3 linked regions of the Homo sapiens genome follow. The protein of the gene in region 1 interacts with the protein of each later gene in a pairwise test. Each region holds a gene or a part of one and is shown on either strand. Other genes may lie near its edges.

Region 1 (7,115 bases):
ACCTGGTTTGTTTTCTTAGGCAAATTATGCTGAGCTTCAGTTTCTTTATCTGTATTCTGAGAATAACACTGGACCTATCAACCTACCCCACGGAAATCACACAGGAACCAAGAGGCAATGGTTTACAACTGATACCAGGGGATCTTCATGGTACCACTACAACACTCCCCATACCTCTCTCACCACACCCCTAAACCTCCCTCTCCTATACCTCCTCCCTCCACATCCCTATGCCCCTCCCTCCACATCCTAATGCCCCTCCCTCCACATCCCTATGCCCCTCCCTCCACCCACTCAAGGAAGCCAGCCTTTTAACTGATCTATGTATTGGAGAACCATGTAAGAGTCTGTTTGGAAAAAGCACTCTGCTAAAAACAAACAAACAAACAAACAAAAAAAACCAAGTTCGAAAAAGCTACACTATACAATAGCAGTTTCCTCTCATAAAAAACTTGAAAAATTCATCAAAGACATTGTACAATTACTCTAACATTTAATAAAGTACCTCTGGTTTTTCATGCCAAAAAGTATCCATTAGGTATACATAAAACTACTTCAATAATGACTGCTGACTAATCAAACTGATTCAACTAAAGAATACTTGAGACATTTATAGTGAAATTAATGAGTGAAATTTATTCTAAAGAAATTCCCACAGATTCAAAATAATTATGTTATGATTACAGAATTACTAGTAAGTCCCAGAACTGCTGCCAGAAACACAATTATAGCTGTATTTAATACAAAGAACACTTTAAAACAGCTTTGGATATTAGGAAGATTATGTTTAAAAAATACAAGCCTCTGCATTGTCTGAGAGGCAGGTGACAGCAGTGCTGTAAACAGACATTCTTGGTTGAGCAAGTTTCAGCTTGGCAGTGTTCCAAAAAAGAAAAAGGGGAGGAAAAAAAAGACTGCACGATAGACACATATTAAGAAGTTTGTTTTGTTTTACCATCCTAGAGGGTTGAGTGAATACAAAATAAAAAGGTTCTCTCAGATATGGTAACAGATTAGCCTCTGCTCCAGAGAAACAAAATAGTGGATGGAAATTCATGCTAGTTTTGTTCTAACTGCATCACAGATTTTCAAAATCATCTCTAGATTTCATGAGCAGTCGCTACTATGTGCTGGACTTACATTTATTTAGTTTTTATCTCAGCATCTCCAATGTGGACATTCTTTAAAGTTTATTTACTCTGTTGGATTTGCAGTAGAAACTTTAGGAGGACAGCCAAAGGAGTACCATTTAAACCAACGATCCCAAACCAAAGAATGAGTAGGAACCTGCTGGCATGCAATTATACTGAACTACCAAGAGAACAGGAAACATGCAAGAATCGGGCTTCACTAAGTCCTTCCTTTCCTCTTATGCTTGTGTTTATTTGTAGAATATTAAATGCAGGAAAAATCCTAGACAGATAGAAGCCTAGCCAGCTCAGGCTCCTTGTTTAGAAAACTGCCATAACTTCCTTAGCCAGATGTAATTTATATGGATGAATATAAATTACATGCAAAATTCTGTTTTGACAGTTCCTTAATGTATGCACCCTCAATAACACAGTACCATGCAATGATGGATTTAAAATCAGAGATACTTTAGAAGAAATACAGATGGATCAGAAAATGACAAAGGTCTCTAGGTACACACATAGTCTACAGCAATGATCCATGAAAGAGGCATCTGTCTATTACACACAGGATACAATATACTTGGGCTTCAACTAGCCCCCTGAGCCTCCAGCTCTACCACTCGGCACTTGATTTTCATGCTCCAACATTTCCCTGTATGAATAAGTGAGTTACTAATTCACACAAGCGTCTTCTAAGTATTAGTATGTCTAGAGACTGACAACTACAAATGTGCATCTCAAGGTCATTATACTAACCAACAACTCTGCTCCTGCTTTCCAATAACACTCAAGTCCCAAACTGAACTTTGGCTAGGTCCCACTCTCAATCCTTTCCCTTCCCCAAATTTCTCTTCGTAACATCACTATCCACACCACTGCTTAAGCCAAAGCTTTGAATGATTCTCTCCCCTTCCATACGCCCCAAACCCTCCCTATCACCTCGCAAGCAATCCAGAGGCAAGTATCATCAATTTTACTTCTACAATACGCCTCAAATCCATCCACTTTTTTCCTTCTTCAGCAGAACCATTCTGGTTCAATTCATCATCATCTTATGCCTAGAAGTCTCTTAACTGTTCTGTTCTCATCTATTTTTGCTGCCTCACAATCAGTTCACCAGGTAACAGTCATACGAATCTTTTTAACATAGGTCATGTCATTCCCTTGACTTAAAAGCCTTTATGACTCTCAACTGCATTGTGAATAAAACCCATTTCTTTACTAAGCCTTTTGAGGTCCTACACAATTTGGTCACTGACTGCCTGCCTCTGTAATCATATAGTGGGCTACCCTCCTCCTCGCTGACCCCATTCCAGCCAGGCTGGCCTTCCTACAGTTACTGGAATGTCCCAGGACGACTCTTCCCTAGGATCTTTATCCATGCCTCTGCGCTAGCATTCTTTATATAGACAGTTTTTTCCATCCTTCAGGTCTCAGTGACGTGGCACCTTCTATGAAAGGCTTTCCCTGACCATCCATGCTAAAGTGAAGCCCCCATTTTAATATTTTCACAACAACCTGTTCTTTCTCTTAACAGTTTTTTAATAATTTGTAACTATATATTTACTTATCTAGCACCCTTTTTGGTATGCAGTAGGCATCTTTTTAACTGAATGAATTAATGAGGACAAGTACTTTAGGCGAGGCTAATCACAAACATATCCTACTAGCTGGTATAAGATGCAATAACAAAGATATTACCTTCTCAACTTTTTTCCTTTTAACAGGCGGGTCAAATCTATCATTGACTCCAAAATACTGAGTAAGCTCTTTCCACTGGGTTTCATTTGAGGACGGTTCACTAAAAGAAGATAGTAAGTTTTGTTTTATACAATATATACTGTCTTTACTTTTACTGTTTTTAATCGGTTACTACAATTATACTACAATTACTAGTTCATATGTTTGATTACTATCAGAAACAATTAGTTCAACAATTTCTACAATGGCCTAAAATAGATAACTATTTTAAATTCTACCTACCTATGTAATTCTTTTTCATTCTTCAATTTATCTGAAAAGAATTCACAAAGTGTCAATACCTAACTTCAGTAATTTCAAAACCATATTTTAAAAAAATGGTTAAACTCAGTCACAACTTAGCATTAGCACGACGAACAACCTGAGTTAAAACAAAACACCTTTTCTGGAGCGTTTTCTTCTTTTCCCTCTGAATCTTGAGGTTGTGCTTTTCTGTTCAGAATGTTTTTTATGCAATTCTTGAAATTTCTATGTAAAAGAAAAAAAAATTGAGAAGCAAATATACTTTCCAGAAAAACATGCATTTAAAAAATAATGAAGTAATAAAACAATTATATTTCAGCGTGTATAAAGATACCAATTTAATGATGGTAGTCAGTTCTTGAGATGCTCTATTCTCTGAGACTCACAACCTGAGTTTTGATATTCACTTGTTTTGAAATAAGTCATTTGATAATTTGAGAGTGAAGCTCATGTAGGTAACAAAAAAGATAAATAAAAGGTTAAATAAAGACAGAAACTACTCATGTACCACGCTAGGCAAACAGCTAATACTACATAGTGGTTTGGGTTTTTTTTTTTTCCCCCTCCGTCTTTCTATGAAAAACAAAACAAAATAAACGCAAGTATCTAAGTGGCCGATGCCTCAGAGAACAGTAAAAGCATTCTGAGTCCATCTCCCTCCCTGTTAAGTCCCAAGAATACATGCACATTCTGACCAGGGCAGAGACACACAGAGGCATGTGCACACACACAGGCTGTAGCAAGAGCATTTCAGAGAAAACCTACATTCCACATATCTATGGGAATTCCAGAAGGACACTCTTCATAGGCATTTACATTTGACTCTGTTTCAGTTTTTGGTTCATCTGTTGAGAAATCTATGATTTCTGTTTTTCTGATGCTCTCATCCTCTTTATCTTCCTGTAAGTTAAGTCCAGAGTTCTCCAACGTAGCTTCATCTTCCGAGTTTGACTCAGCGTCACTTTCATTTAGGCCAGGAGGTAGCAGCCCACTCCACATCTTTTCTTCTATGAGGAAAAAGATTAATTTACACATGTAGAATAACCATAGAAATAATTTTAAGACCATTAGAAGACATTCCAGGTGCCTAATAATTATAACAATGGTTTGGGAACAGTCCATCTAAACTTTTTTTTTTTAATCTAAAATGGCATAGAATGAACCTGTTATAAAATAATTAAAATCTTCACTTGTGTAAGTAAAAAAAAAGTTTAGAAGTTTAAAAGCTGTTTAAACAAGTTTGTTACAACATACACCTACAGGTAAAGAAAATAGAGCCTTGATTCTCTAATATATGAGTAGTTTTGTCTAAAAAAAACATGAAATTCAGTAAAGCATTGCTCAAGAATGTTAAAAACCTAACAACATACTTTGCAAGCAATTTAGGATTAAAATACCATATTTGAAGCTATACCAATTAGAGAATAAAACTGCATGTTTCACCTATATTTAATGGACAAAGCTTTCAGAGGGCGTCTTGTCTAAGGAGCAGGAAAATAACTAAAGGAAAATTTTTAAGCTACATAAGTAGTTGGAGGAAGGTATCGTAGTAAAAAGGATATCCTACTTTTTAGTTTAATACTGTTTGCTAAAATAATATTAAATGAAATATAATCCTAACAATTTAACAAAAATGTACAGCTTTTTAAAGTAACAATACTATATTTGGGAAACTAATGGTCAAGTTCAAGATAATATTTAGCATTAGCTATACAGTCCATTAGTAGAGAGAACCATTAAGTTTAATAAAATGACTTAAAATAGCAGAATTGTTATCATTTGCTAAAAGTATAATACTCAAGTACATACTCACTATTGATCTTCATGGCACAGTCTATTTTAGCACATATATTGAGCCAAAACCAGTTCCTTCAAAAGATGCTTAAAATAGAGAAGCCGGTTGTACTGCTCATGATTTACTATCAATATGAAGGAATAAAATGGAAGGACGGAAATTTGTTTTGCAGTTTTCTGTCCCATATTGTGATTAACCTAGTTAAAAAACAAACAAACAAACAAAAGAAACCACCATTCTCTCTGAGACAAACACATCAGGGATTTTGTGATAACAGATTTCTCTTATCTTTTAAAGACCTCCTTCCAGGTCCAAAGAATCAGATCTTACTTTTTGTGGCTTTGGTCCAGCCTCATCAGTTGCTGGCTCTCTGAAATATCCTCACCAAATATTCTGTTGGCTTTTTATGAGGAAGGACTCTGGCATCTAACTGCTCCAACTAGAATCTTAACTCTGACACTACTAGTAGTATGAGGAAATCATTTGACATCTCTGACCCTCAATTTCTTTATCTGTAATGCAGGGATAATTATACTGCTTATAGGGCTATTCTGAGGATTAAATGAGATAAGCCCCTCAACACAGTGTTTAGGAGGTCCTAGGGGCTCAATAAATGTTAAGTTCTCTTTGCTATTATTATTTCTGTGGCCATGTATTACATTTTTATCATTTCTATTATGAGTGACAGGGTTCATAAGATAGTTTTGAAGTTTCTAATAATTGTGGTGCACTCACTTAGCAACTGATGCAATCATTTGCTTCCTTGATAGTCACAATCTGATGTGAAGTGTCTATAACAAATGTTAGTGTTTGGTTTTCTGAATGGAGGAATAAAATGAGGGCAAATTACTAGGAAGATAATGGTAACCTTAAGCTCCAAGATTCCTCATCTGCACAGGTCCTTCCAAAGCACTGTACCTAGTTTTCTATTCAGAATTTACATTTCTTTGTTTAAAGGAAGAAACCCGAAGTTATATAAGCTCCAGGCCCCATAAAACCCAGATCTATCCCTAAACCTGTCTGTGGATTTTTAAAGTTGGGACAGCAGTACTCTTGAAATACTCCAATAGCACAAAAGACATCATGTAAAATATGCCAATATTGAAAAACAGGTGTCATGCTATTAATAAAAAAGATTTCTCCTGTTCTGAGAGCAAGGGGAAGGAAGCAGTAATAAGTTCCAGTATGACTTGGCCACCGCCATATAATATACCTTTAGGCTCATTATCATTTAAGGACTTAAAACAGTAACAAATTTCAGGTTTGGATTTCTTAGCATCACTGGAGTCTATGTTAGAAATAACTCTTTCCCTTCCTGTCCATAAAATATTTTACATGCCCACTTATGTGCCAGACACTCTTCAAGACCCTGGGGACAGAAGTATATAAAACAGGCAAAAATCCCTAGCCTCACGAAATGACAGCTATACACATAGCAAGTTTCTGCTCAGTTTTTGAGCCAAGTATTCCTTGACCTGGACTTTAGATGTGACTGCTCATGAAACGTGTATGCCTCTCCAATGGGCAGTGGCACAGGTCTCCTACTAAACCACTGTTTTAGCATCTCTGCAGGGTGATAGTCTATGCTCTGGGCACCCAAACATGCTTCCCTCTGGGAAGCAGTCTCAGTTGCCCCGAAGAAGGCATGCTTTTTGCTGTTGTTGTTGCTAATCAGCCTTCAAGTAGTTAGGCATTTTTTATGGCTTTTTAAATTTTCTCAAAATTATATATTTTTAGCTCCTGCTCATGTGGCATTAAAAACTGTCCTCAGTGTGGCATCTGCCTGGTATGATAATTTCTTGAGTGTACCCAAAGGAAAAAAAATTAAAATAGTTTGAAAAAGGTGGAATCCACCTCTAAATCCAGGCAAAATTCAAATCAGGTAGGTTTTGAATTCCACTCTTTAGAACCTTTAGTCATGTGCCATTTTCCTGTGACTCTCAAAAAAACAAATACAAGGGAGACTGAGCAGTCACTGATAAACACGGATAACTGCTGCCACTTACTGTGCAGCCTGCAAAATGGAGTTGCCCGTGTAAGCAGCAGCCCAGTTACAGATCAGCCAATATGGAGTGGCTGCTTAGTGACTTTTGCTTTGGACTCATGTTTCAAAACAGTCTTTCTATTCATAGCATATACTTGTCATTCACAAAGTTTCCAACTGGCACCATGTTAGGCCTCCT
Region 2 (6,298 bases), on another chromosome or scaffold:
AACTTCCGCCTCCTGTGTTCAAGTGATTCTCCTGCCTCAGCCTCGCATGTAGCTGGGATTACAGGCACCTGCCACCACTCCCAGCTAATTTTTGTATTTTTTTTTTTTAGTAGAGACTGGGGTTTGCCATGTTGGACAGGCTGGTCTCGAACTCCTGACCTCAGGAGATCGTCTGCTTCGGCCTCCCAAAGTGCTGGGATTATAGGCATGAGCCACCGTGCCCGGCCAATACAGATCTTTTTAAATGCCCTTCTACATATTCACATGCTCCAAACACCAAGTCCTTTTCTTCCTCTCCTGTTAGATAAAATTTTAAGAAGAAAATTTGTCTCTAGGAATAAGTCCTCCCCCAGGCCTTATTTACAATGTCTGGGAAACTGTCAACCTGTGGGTCTGTCCGCCAACCCTACAGGATCTCATATCCTTCCCTTCTCAAATGCCTACCTCTTCCCTTCCCTTCCTTCCCACCATCAGACAACAGGCAGAGATATACACGGTCATCAGCTCCTCAAACTTGATTTTATTGTAATCATCGCCATTGGTAGTGAGGATTTGTCCAATTTGGTTTCTCCATGTTTGACTAGTCCTCCCCACCCTCCTGTGAAGATCCTTCAGATGAGTCTAGGTCTTCGTCCTCCTGTGAAGATCCTTCAGGTGGGTCCAGGTCTTCGTCCTCCTGTGAAGATCCTTCAGATGAGTCCAGGTCTTCGTCCTCCTGTGAAGATCCTTCAGATGAGTCCAGGTCTTCGTCCTCCTGTGAAGATCCTTCAGATGAGTCCAGGTCTTCGTCCTCCTGTGAAGATCCTTCAGATGAGTCCAGGTCTTCGTCCTCCTGTGAAGATCCTTCAGCTGAGTCTAGGCCTTCGTCCTCCTCCTCTTGGACTGGATTGATGGAGTTCTCTCGGGACTGGTCCTTCTCCAGTTGATTTGAATTTATTTTCGTATGCTTCCTGTAGTAATACACTATTATTGTTAGATATTCTATTGTTTTTGTCTTTTGCAAGCTCTGTTTGGGGGCTAAGACCCTGTTCGGTGCCTCCTGCATCTGATAAGAAAACAGGGAGAGGCCAGAAAGTCATTATTTTGGGTGAATAGGGTAGAGACTGGATAGCAAGGGGGGCTTTATGAGAAGGAATGCAGGTTGAGGAAGGGGTTTGTGCCAGAGAAGAACAAGGTGGAATCATAGGGTAGTGATCTATGGGGAAGAAGAAGAGGAGCATGGGTAGGGTCATCTGTTAGTCCAAACTGCACGATTTCGCAAGTTCTTTGCTATTTTGCAGACCTTGGTCAAAGTGAGACACTCCATGGGGGCTCAGGCCGTGAGAAACATCCTGCCTAACCACCTGACCACAGGGCGGACAAAGGCCCAACTAAAGAAACATTCCTATCATATCTTGCTTGGCAAAGTTCTAAGGAACGCCACAATGATATTCCACTGGAAAAAGGGCCAAACCACCTGATCATAAGAACATCTTATCAATATCCTGCCGGATAGCATCCCACATTGCCCAGATCCCTCCTGCCCATCCCTGTAAGTACCCCAGCCTGTAAGCGGCGGTGGGCTCTGGCATTAAGCTTGTCCTCCACTTCCATAGGTGTCTGCCATATTCCTGTGTTGCTGTTTGAGCTGCCCCCTGTGTGTCTTTCTTTCATCCTTGCCTTCCCTTCAAAACCTAACATTTTGGTGCCAAAACCTGGAGTGGTGATTGGGTTCTAATGGGTAAGTTTTCTCTTGCAACCTGGAAAGCAGCAAGCAGCACAAACTAGACCAGGGCCTGCTTCCAGATCCTGAGTGTACTCCCTGTTCCCAGTCCCATTCTCCTTATTCTCTAGTCTTCTCCAGACCTGGGCTAACCTCCAGATAGTGATCAAACAAGCCACCTTATTTTTTGTTCCTTCCTGTTTCCGGGCAGCTGCAACAAGGATCACCCCCATTTCTGGACATCACATCCAACACTGGGCTTCAATTAGTGGGTGAGTCTCCCTCTTCCTCCTTTCCAGATTCCTCTCTATTTCTGCCCGTTCTCCAAAAAATTCCAGTGCTGGGTGAGAGGTCTCCCCAGTCACCAGGTGACTGCAGCCTCCCTTCTTAGGGTACACCTTCAAAACGTTTGCCACTCTGGCTGCTCTGGCCTCTGGGGAGCATGAATAGTACGGGGCTGCCCCAACTCTCCAGGTCCCTTCTCCCAGGAGGAATCAAGTACTCACTTCCCTATGGGGTATTCACTTCTCTCTGGAGTACTCGCTCACCCCTGGGGTACTCACTCCCTTCCAGGGTACTCACTTTCCTCAGGGGTAGTCACTCCCATCCAGAGTATTCACTCCCCTCTTCCAAAAAACAAAACATTCAACTTCCAAATTCAACATAATCTAAAAAACTTTCTTCAATGCAATGGTAAATAATCTGAAGTGCTTTGCTTATCTCCTTTCATGCCTCACTCTCTCTCTCTCTCTCTCTCTCTCTCTCTCTCTCTGCCAATCTTGTTCACCTTTTCAAATCTTCCTCCTCAAGGAGAAACCCCCCAAAATGCCTCTTCCTCCGGACAAGTCTTCTTCCTCTGAATTTCAACCTGGCCAACACACCCGTTCTTCAGCCTCCTGCCCTCTCCCATTCCCTCCACCTTCTCCTTCGGATCCGGCTCCTCCACCCCCTTACTGTCGCCCTCCATCCCCCTTCCTTCTCCACCTCAAACCAGGTCTCACACCCAACCCCCTTTCGCTAGGAACCAGGCACATGCCCAAAGGCCTTCCAAAGTCCTTCCCTTGCAGGAGGTTGCGAGGGCTAAAGGCATAATCTGAATTCAAGTTCCCTTCTCTCTAGCTGAGTTTTCCCATATTGAAAGGAGACTTGACTCCTTTTCAATGGATCCAACCTCCTTCCACAAGGAATTCTTGTACTTCCCTAAATCTTATGACCTTACCTGGCATGACATATATGTCATCCTCTCCTCTACCCTCACCCTGGAGGACAGGGAACACATCTTTATGGGTGCCCAGGTCCATGAGAACACCCTCCACCAACAAGATGCTGCTCATAATCCAATAGGGACCCTAGCTGTCCCCAGAACTGGCCCCAGTTGGAATTATCAGGCAACTTCAGTAGACAGACAGAAATCAGGCCATATGATATCATGCCTTCTAGCTGGCATAAATAAAGCTGTCCCTGCTCGTTTCCTCTCCTGCCTTTCAAAAGTCACAACTAAATATGCCACCTTAAGCCCTAATACCAATAAGGGCAAAAACTACCTCCATTTATACTTTATCTCCCAGTCAGACCCAGACATTTGAAAAAAACTTAAAAAACTGGAGGGTGGCCCTCAAACCTTCCAAAGAGACTTAATCAAAGTGGCCTTCAAGATCTATAAGATTAGAGAGGAAGAACTAAAAAATCCAAACCTAAAGAAGGACCAGGCTAAATACCAAATGCTGGTAGCTGCCACTCAACAGGGTTCCCAAGGCCTACAGAATTCCTCAACTTGGCAACAGTCAACTCCAGGAGCCTGTTACAAGTTCGTCTAACAGGGACACTGGGCAAAAGCCTAGCCTAATCCCAGGACACTCTGGAAATCTTGCCCCATCTGTGGTATCAAGCAACACTGGAAGTCAGACTGTGCTCACTGAAACTCTTCATCCTGCTTCACCACCTGTACCTGAAGACAGGTGGGGCCTGGAGTCCACCGCCCCTACTGCCATCACCACCTCGGAACCCAGGGTAATTCTGTCAGTCTCTAGTAAGCCCATGTCTTTCCTATTGGATACTCAATAGGACAACTAGTTACTCAGTTTGACCAGAATATTCTAGACCCTTTTTCTGTTCTTCGATCTCTATTGTGAGAATCAATAAAATCCCCTCTAGGCACAGACTGGTCCTTTATTATACAACCTATTCAGCAGCCCCCTTCACCCACTCTTTCCTGGTTATCCCTCAGTCCCCTACCCCTATCTTGGGATGGGACATATTAAGTAAATTCCAGAACTCCATGCAATGTGGCTCCTACAATTCTACCCCTTTTATTTTACTCTGACACCCAAACGCTTCCCTCTCCCCCCACTCATCCTCATTATCCACCCTGTTACCTTCTGTTAATTCTAAAGCTTGGAATGTTTCTAAACCCACAATAGCCACACATCACATCCCAGTTAAAATAACCCTTCAAAACCCCTCCATTTTCCTTCATCAGTCTCAATATCCCCTTAATCCAGCCTTGCTTAGGGGGTCTCAAACCTATTATCTGTAAACTTTTACAAGCTCATATTCTCAAGCCTGTTAACTCTCCCCACAACACCCCTATTCTGGCTTTCCAAAAGACAGACGGGACTTACCCCTTTGTCTAGGATCTCCAAGTCGTTAACCAGGCCGTGGTACCAATCCATCTAGTGGTCCTCAACCAATATACTCTACTCTACCGTATTGCCCCATCTACCACACACTCCTTTGTATTGAACTAAAAGACAACTATTTCACTATTCCCTTAAATCTGGCTTACCAAAGTCTTTTTGCTTTGACTTGGTCAAATCCTAATACTCACATGTCCTGTACTCTTACAGGACTTACACATGGACTTACACCTAGACTGTACTCTTAGAGGGGTTCCGGGATAGGCCCCACCTGTTCAGACAGGCCCTCATCAAGGACCTAGCTGAACTTCCCCTTGCTCCTAGTACCCTCCTCCAGTATGTCAATGACCTCCTTCTCTGTAGCCCCTTTCTTAACCTGTCCATTCAACACACCACTCAGGTTTTAAACTTCCTTCATAATCAAGTATATTGGGCCTAACCCACAAAATCTCAGGTACCCAAATCAAAGTTACTTACCTTGGGTTTGTTCTAACCCCTAATTCTCGAGCCATCCCAACCCAATGAAAGGAGCCAATTTGGGACATGCCCCTTCCCCACATAAAAAAAAAGGACCTCCCCTCCTTCTTGGGCCTTGTGGGATACTTCTGGCTGTGAATTCCTAACTTTGACTTGCTGGCCAAGCCACTATACGTAGCCTCACATGGGCCCATCCTAAAACCCCTGAACCCAGCTTGCCCCATCAACTCCAACTTAAAAACTTAAAAATGCCCTTTTAATGGCCCTGGCACTGGGACTGCCAAACCTCACCAAGCCTGTTACTTTCTATGTACATTCTGACCAGCGCCTTGCCCTTGGACTACTCTGCCAAACATATGGCAACGCCCCAGAAGCCATTGCACGCCTCTCAAAACAACTGGACTCTGTCATCCGAGGCTGGTCACTCTGACTAAAAATCTTGGGTATGGCCACATTGCTGGCCTTAGATGCACGGAAACTCCCTCTCTACCAACACATTACTATTGCATCTTCCCATTATCTACAGGACCTCATAAACCACCAATCCCTTCTATCCCTCCCACCATCCTGCTTACAGCAGGTGCATGCCTTATTCATAGGTAACCCTCTAATCACCTTCCAGAGACATAAAATTCTCTACCCAGCCACCCTTCTCCCTGTAAACACTTCCGACTCTAAGCTCTCTCACTCCTGTCTGGACCTCTTAGACTCCCTCTCCTCCCCCTTCCAACACATTTCAGATGCCCCTTTGCAGGGAACACATACACGGTTAGTTAATGGAACCTCTTTTAGGCAGCCATGTCCAGCAGCTGGCTATTCCATCAGTGCTGAAGATAAACTCCTAGAATCGAATGCTCTCACACCCCATGCTACCTCTCAACAGGCAAAGCTAGTTGCCCTAACCAGGGCCCTCACCCTAGCAAAGGGAAAGAGGGTCAACATTTACACCCATTCCAAATATGCATACCATGTCCTACAGTCTCATGCCTTCATCTGGCAGGAACAGGGTTTCCTAACTACAAAAGGAACCCCCATAAGAAATGGCAAACTTACACATAAGCTGTTGGGGGTGGATAAACCACCACCAAAGGCCACCATTATCCATTGCAAGGGACACCGAAAGGCTACAGATGCCAAAACCGAGAAAAACCTTTCAACAAATTCGGCAGCCTGGCAGGCAGCCCTTAAAACCCCATCGTTATTGCTCATTTTTTTTCCCAGCATACACCCTGTATATACCCAGCAGGAAAAAAACCCACTTGCCCAGGCTGGTGCCATTCAGGAAAAAATAGTTCGATCTCACTGATAAAGTGTCTTGCCCAAGTTTAAAAAACCTTCTGTACTTTCATATGTGCACAACCATTTCCATGCCGGTTACTGCCCCTACTCCAGCTTTTAAAAACTTCTAGACATTCTTCCACCATGGTTGCCCATCTCAGAGATATTACTAAGGCATGTTCCCTTTGCACTCAAACTTCCCCTC
Region 3 (7,000 bases), on another chromosome or scaffold:
TTGAACCTGGGAGGCGGAGCTTGCAGTGAGCCGAGATCACGCCACGGCACTCTAGCCTGGGTGACAATGTGAGACTCCGTCTCAAAAAAAAAAAAAAAAAAAGAAATGCCCACCCCTCCCCTGCCTTACTGCCCCTAGTGCAGGAGAGTGTCCAAATAACATGAAGTCCTAAAGCCACTTTTTGGATTCCGAGAAAGAGCATTTGTCCCAGGCAGTCTTAGCTGGGTGACCTTCAGCAAGTCTCGTTTCTCCCGAGTCTTACATTCCTATTCACACAAGAAGGTATCAACTCCCACTTACACAGCACTTTGCCATTTCAAAGAGATGTTTTTAGTGATTCGTTTTTTTAAAAATCTTCACAGCAACCCTTTAGACTGGCCGAGATCATTATCCTCACAGGGATATTATTCTCTTAAGGGTCCCTGACGCCGGACGCTGCTCCCAGCACAGAAGGCGGGCGGATGCAGCTACAAGGCCCACCTGCTTGGCCTGCAGCCTTGAATGTGCCCTGCTCCAGCAGCTGGTCCCCTCTCACTCTGCTCTGCAGCCCTGCTGGACTCTGTGATCTGTCAGAGTGAAGAGGGCTGGAAGGGCAGCTGCTGCTCAGCTCCTTGTATGGAAATAGTTGCTCACGGACAGATAAATGCAAAGACAAGGTGCCTGCATGGTGGGCAAGCCCTCCAAAAACTCAGCCAGAGAGGACAGGACCAACAGTTCAACCGTTCTGTCTTTCAGGGATGCTTACAAACTCCCAGCCTGCCAGAAGGTCTCTCCTCAAAAATTAGAGGGAAGTGTCTTTTTTTTTTTTTTTTTGAGACAGGGTCTTTCTCTGTCCTCCAGGCTGGAATGCAATGGCATAATCACTGCTTATTGCAGCCTCAAACTCCTGGGCCTAAGCGACCCTCCCACCTTAGCCTCCCAAGTAGCTGGGACTACAGGCACATGCCACCACGCTTGGCTTGTTTTTATTTTTATTTTTTTGTAGAGATGGAATTTCATTATGTTGCCCAGGCTGGTCTCAAACTCTTGAGCTCAAGCGATCCGCCTGCCTCAGCTTCCCAAAATGCTGGGATTACAGGCGTAAGCCTGCTGTGCCCAGCCTGGGGTAGGTGTCTTAAAGAACATCCCATCCCTCAAGTACCCAGATAACTTCACAATATTTTAAATTCTTTTTCTCATTCCTTCTTCTTTTCTTCTTTCCCTCTGTCTTTCCTTCCCTCCCTGCTTCATTCTGCAAGTATTTATTGAGAATCTGTTATGTGCATTGAGCTAGGTAATAGAGGGCCTTAAAAGATAAAGGAAGGCGGGGCGCGGTGGCTCACGTCTGTAATCCCAGCACTTTGGGAGGCCGAGGCAGGCGGATCACAAAGTCAGAAGATCGAGAACATCCTGGCCAACACGGCGAAACCCCGTCTCTACTAAAAACAAACAAACAAAAAACAATTAGCTGGGCGTGGTGGCGGGCGCCTGTAGTCCCAGCTACTCGGGAAGCTGAGGCAGGAGAATCGCGTGAACCCAGGAGGCGGAGCTTGCGGTGAGCCGAAATCACGCCACTGCACTCCAGCCTGGGCGACAGAGCGAGACTCTGTCTCAAAAACAAAAAAGATAAAGGAAATACCGACTTTGCCTTCAAGCAGTCCCCAGGCTGGGATGGGACATAAACACATATAAACAAGGCAGGACCCACATTCCACAAGCATGGTAACTTGCTGTAAGTTTCGAGGAAGAGAGACTACTTCAACTGAGGTAGGAGAGGCAATCTAGAAAGGCATCACCTACGAGATGAGGAGGCATTGTTCTGACCTCGAGAGATAGGCTGAGTTTGTACTCAGAGAAGGTTGAGGTCTTCCAGAAAGAGGCACTGATAGGCAAATGTGTCGGTGTGGGGGTGTACATATAGGAGACAGAGTTAGCCGTTGGATGAGATCATGAGATTCATGTTTGCACTGACTATTAAATACCTTGACATAAGAAGTCAGTGGGGGCTGGGGTAGTGGCTTACACCTGTAATCCCAGAACTTTGGGAGGCTGAGGCAGGAGGATCACTTGAGCCCAGGAGTTTGAGACCAGCTTGGGCAAAATAGTGAGACCACTGCCTCTACAAAAAACAAAAATAAAAAGTAGCCAGCCATGGTGGCAGGCACCTGTAGTCCCAGCTACTCCAGAGACTGAGGTGGGAGGATGGCTTGGGCCCAGCAGGTAGAGGCTGCAATGAGCCATGATTGTGCCATGACACTCCAGCTTGACCAACAGAGTGAGACCCTATCTCAAAAAAAAAAAAAAAAAAAAAGAATTAAAAGGTACTGTTTCCTTGGATCAAGCCTGGAGATTGTCAATTTATTTTTAACATCCCTTTTTTTATTAAAACATCAATTCTCAAGATTTTCTCTGCCACAGCTCACACACCCTACTAAGACCTGTATACATTTCCATGGCCTAGCTGAAGCACCCCCCTCAATTCATGTTCAGAACACATCCTGGGATGCGAGTGGGTAAAGATAGCATCATTATGGGGACAACCTGCCATTTGATCTAATCCATCTTTAAAAGGCAATCATTCTCAGACTTCTGGATTTAAGAATTATTGAGCAATATTTAGCAATACAGCTCACAACAGGTTGTGTAACATGTCGACATGTCTTGCCTCTGCAGCTAAAAGTGCCAAATGAAAAGCAGAATTCTAAGTCGACTGTGGTTATTCTCAACATCCAATGCAAACATTTAAGGCTGTCACTTGAATAGTTTAGCACTTACTCATTTTCTGAACTAATTGTTCCGGAATTTCTCTAATCCTTTTATTAAATTATTTCCATTTATAGCATCATTTATCCCCCAATAACCAACCACCAGCTGTTATCAGATTAAAGGCCACATGTGTGTTTGTGTGTCTGCCAGGGCTGATCCTGCCATTCCCACATGCTCACACAGAATTACACTGACTAACCCCACCTGCTCTGCCGCACCTAAGAAAGCTCATAACTGGTTCCATTTTCAAAAAAAGCCTGGTTGACAGTAATTTATTTACAAATACTCAACTTTTTCTCATGTTCCCCACTATCTTTTTCCCTATATACACACTATATATACATAATCTCCGGGTCACTTTCAACTTTGTAACCAGAATAATTTAGAGACTGCTCAAGTTTTTATTTAAAGAACTTTTAAAAAAAAATCCACTAACTGTCCTTGCTCCTTCTTAACATATTTTGTGATGAATTGGATCAATCTAGAAAATTCTTTTTCGTTGGGGTAGACTGAATAATAGCCCCCCAAAAATTGTCAATGTCTTAATCCCCAGAACTTATAAATAGATTACATTACATGGCAGAGGAACTTTGCATGAGTGATTAAGTTAAAGACCTTGAGACAAGGACAGTATCCCAAATTTCCTAGGTGGGCCTAATGTAATTGCAAGTCCTTATAAGAGGAGGCAGGAGGTCAGCAGGGAACAAGATGTTACACTGCTGGCTTTAAAGATTCAGGAAGGGGGCCATGAGCCAAGGAATGTGGGCAGCCTCAAGTAGATGGAGATAGCAAAGAAACAGAAGTGTCAGCCTGTTTTAGACTTCTAACCTCCAGAACTATAAGATAATAAACTTGTGTTGTTTTCAGCCATTGAAGTTACAGTAGTTTGTGACAGCAGCAAAGGGAACTAAAGGCCAGGTGCCTAGGGGCTCACGCCTGTAATCCCAGCACTTTTGGAGGCTGAGGCAGGCAAATCTCTTGAGGTCAGTAGTTTGAGACCAGCCTTGGCAACATAGTGAAACCCCATCTTCTTTCCCTCTCTCTTTCTCTCTCTTTCCTTCCCTCCCTGATTCTTTCCACAAGTATTTATTGAGCATCTGTTATGTGCATCGAGCTAGGTAATAGAGGGGAGAACTAGACATAAAGGAGTAATAAACAAATGAGTTATGCATATACTTAAAAATTGAGGGCATCAAAAGAAAACAACAATTCATAAAAGAACAAATGTTAAAAAACTTTCACTTCTCTAATAATAAAAAATTCAAGTTAAAACAATACTAAAAAAAGTTTTAACAGATTAAGTTGACAAACATGAAAAAGTGAAATAGTTTTCTGTGTTGGCCAGTATTGGGATGAGGAGACAACCCCTGTGCTGCTAGTAGAAAAATGTATGATCTCCTTTGATGAGGTAATTTGGAAATCTATATCAAAAGCCTTAAAAACGTATTTTGAATTCAAAATTTATACTTGTAGGAATTTGTCTTTAATACATAATCAGAGATATATGGGAAGATCTACTAGGAAAAAGAAGAGCACACCCTTGATCTCCAAAACATAGCATCTACAAATTAGTTCAGCCCTTGTAGAAAGCAGCCTGGAGAGTTCTCAAAAAACTAAAACTAGAATTACCATTCGACCCAGAAATCCCATTACTGAATATCTACCTGAAGGAAAATAAATTATTCTACCAAAAACACACCTGCACTCATATGTTTATCACAGCACTATCCACAGTAGCAAGGACATGGAAACAACCCAGGTGCCCATCAATGGTGGATTGTATAAAGAAAACCTGGTGCATATATACCCTGTAATACTACACAGCTGTTAAAAAAGAACAAAATCACGTCCTTTGCAGCAATATGGGTGCAACTGGAGGCCATTCTCCTAAGCAAATTAATGCAGAAACAGAAAACCAAATAACATGTTTTCATTTTGAAGTGGGAGATAAACATTGGGTATGTATAGACACAAAAATGTGAACAATAAACACTGGAGATTCCAAAAGGGGAGAGGGAGGGAGAGGGTGAAGAATTGAAAAGCTACCTATAGGGTACCATGTTCACTACCTGGGCAAGCAGATTATTAGAAGCCCAAACCTCAGCATCACACAATATGCCCATGTAGCAAACCTGCACATGTACCCCCAAAATCTAAAATGAAAATAAAAACTAATATATGGCATCTAATTAAATTAATATACAAGTCAACAAAAAGAATACTATGCAGCCATTAAAATGGTGTAGAAGGATATTAATGGTTTGAAAGTTGTTCACAACATATTATGAAGTAAATAAAACAGGTTACAAAATAATCCAACTTTTTTGAGAGAAAAAGTGTATACAACTTAATTACATTGAACCTGAAATTATTAAATGCACCATTTTTATTCACTACTAAGAAATCAAAAAAAATCTGCCAATTAAACCATAATCAGCCATAGATTTTAGGATACATTATGATTTCAGAGAAGTTAAAATATGTATTCTGGAATTGATAAATATAGCATATTATGTATGTCCCATTTTCCCTCCATTCTGAAATAAACTTCTTTTCCCATATTTTAATATCCAGAATTTAGGGACATTTTGTGTCTTACAATCAAAGCATATATTTAATGTAGTGTTTCTGCCAGGCGCAGTGGCTCACGCCTGTAATCCTAGCACTTTGGGAGGCCAAGGCCGGCAGATCACTTGAGGCCGGGAGTTCGAGACCAGCCTGGGCAACAGGGTGAAACCCTGTCTCTACTAAAAATACAAAAATTAGCTGGGTGTGGTGGCATGCACCTGTAGTCCCAGCTACTCGGGAGGCTGAGGCAGGAGAATCACTTGAGCCCAGGTGGCAGAGGTTGCAGTGAGCCGAGATCTCACCACTACACTCCAGCCTGGCTGACAGAGCAAGATTTCATCTCAAAAAATAAAAATAATAACAATAATAATGTAGTATTTCTTCCAGGACCCCCACCCCACCTATAACTCATCAGAATCAAGAAAACATTTTATATGCATTGTATTTGCATCAGAAAACAAGGAGGATATACACCAGAATGTTAATAGCTGGGGTTTTTTTTTTTTTTCCAAATGTTAAGATTGCAGAGAATTATTATTTTCTTCCTTAACAACAACAACAAAACCCAGCATTGCGAATTCCCAGTTTGACCCCATGCTATGTAGAAGCTAGGAGGATCACTTGGGCTAAGGTACCACAGAGCTCCCACTCACTTTCCCCCTGAGAACTGGAAACTCTCAGAGTGGAGAGTTAAAGGGGCAGAGAGCAACTTTTACCCACTCGTGCATCACCCCCGGTATCTCAACTACCATAAAATACTGTGTCCAAAAAAGGCAACCCCTTGGTAACGGTACTTCACTCCCTTCCAGCCCCCAACCACAACACCTAAGAGGATGGCAAATAGACTTCATTTTTAAATGCTAGTTCTCATTGATTGGTAGTAGCCCCCTGGAGGACCTGCTGGAAGGGATTCTGAGGCCAAGTTGGAGTTCAGGAGGAAGGTGTGCCTGATTGATTAGTCATGCCTAGCACTTAATCCAAGTGCTACATAATAGCTAGGCCTGAAAGAATTTTCCCAGCTTTATTCTTGCTCTCTTACCTTCAAGAAGAGTACCTGCTTTTCCGACCATCAAAGGTGAAGAGATCCTAACCAGACTAAGGACCATAATTTAAGGGCCTGGATTGTTACTGTTAATGCTAAACAAAGCCCATTCTAACAAAGACACAATTCAGGTTTACAAACCAGCATTTCACAGTATGGCATTATATTTTAAAGCCAAATAACACATATATTACTGGCCTAGTAATTACACTTCTGTGATACACACCTCATGTATCTGCTTTCCAAGAGATAGGAGCAAAAATGTTCATAGCAACCATTCACAGGAGAATGGAAAAATAAATTTGGTACACAGACACACACAAAGTTTATTCATTTTATTAGTTTCACAAAACCATACAGATGAATAATAAACATTTCATTGAAAGAAACAAGTGGCATAAAACCACATATAATATTGTACCTTTGTTTAAAAGATCAAAAACAAAACATAACTAAATTATACATTGTTTAGAAATATGTGACTGTGATAAAACTATTACTGTTTTTTTTTTTTTTTTTTTTTTTTTGAGAAATAGTCTTGCTCTGTCACCCAGGCTAGAGTGCAGTGGCATGATCTTGGCTCATTGCAACCTCTGCCTCCCGGGTTTAAGCGATTCTCTCACCTCAGCCTTCTGAGTAGCTGGG

What was found. The genes of interacting proteins can lie anywhere in the genome.
Region 2: the proteins of FAM204A (region 1) and SPANXN2 interact in binary tests that used the Homo sapiens proteins (3 or more experiments, as listed by UniProt).
Region 3: the proteins of FAM204A (region 1) and SMYD1 interact in binary tests that used the Homo sapiens proteins (3 or more experiments, as listed by UniProt).

The regions. Positions count from the first base shown.
Region 1 is NC_000010.11:118,332,280-118,339,394, forward strand, and holds part of FAM204A (protein FAM204A), read right to left. Parts: intron 5,130-7,115; exon of another isoform or gene 4,964-5,129; coding exon of another isoform or gene 4,951-4,963; exon of another isoform or gene 4,947-4,950; intron 4,145-4,946; coding exon of another isoform or gene 4,137-4,144; coding exon 3,903-4,136; intron 3,363-3,902; coding exon 3,275-3,362; intron 3,148-3,274; coding exon 3,117-3,147; intron 2,935-3,116; coding exon 2,835-2,934; intron 1-2,834.
Region 2 is NC_000023.11:143,711,455-143,717,752, forward strand, and holds the end of SPANXN2 (sperm protein associated with the nucleus on the X chromosome N2), read right to left. Parts: intron 1,046-6,298; coding exon 581-1,045; 3' UTR 501-580; downstream 1-500.
Region 3 is NC_000002.12:88,070,825-88,077,824, reverse strand, and holds part of SMYD1 (histone-lysine N-methyltransferase SMYD1), read right to left. Parts: intron 1-7,000. UniProt on the Homo sapiens protein: Methylates histone H3 at 'Lys-4' (H3K4me), seems able to perform both mono-, di-, and trimethylation. Acts as a transcriptional repressor. Essential for cardiomyocyte differentiation and cardiac morphogenesis.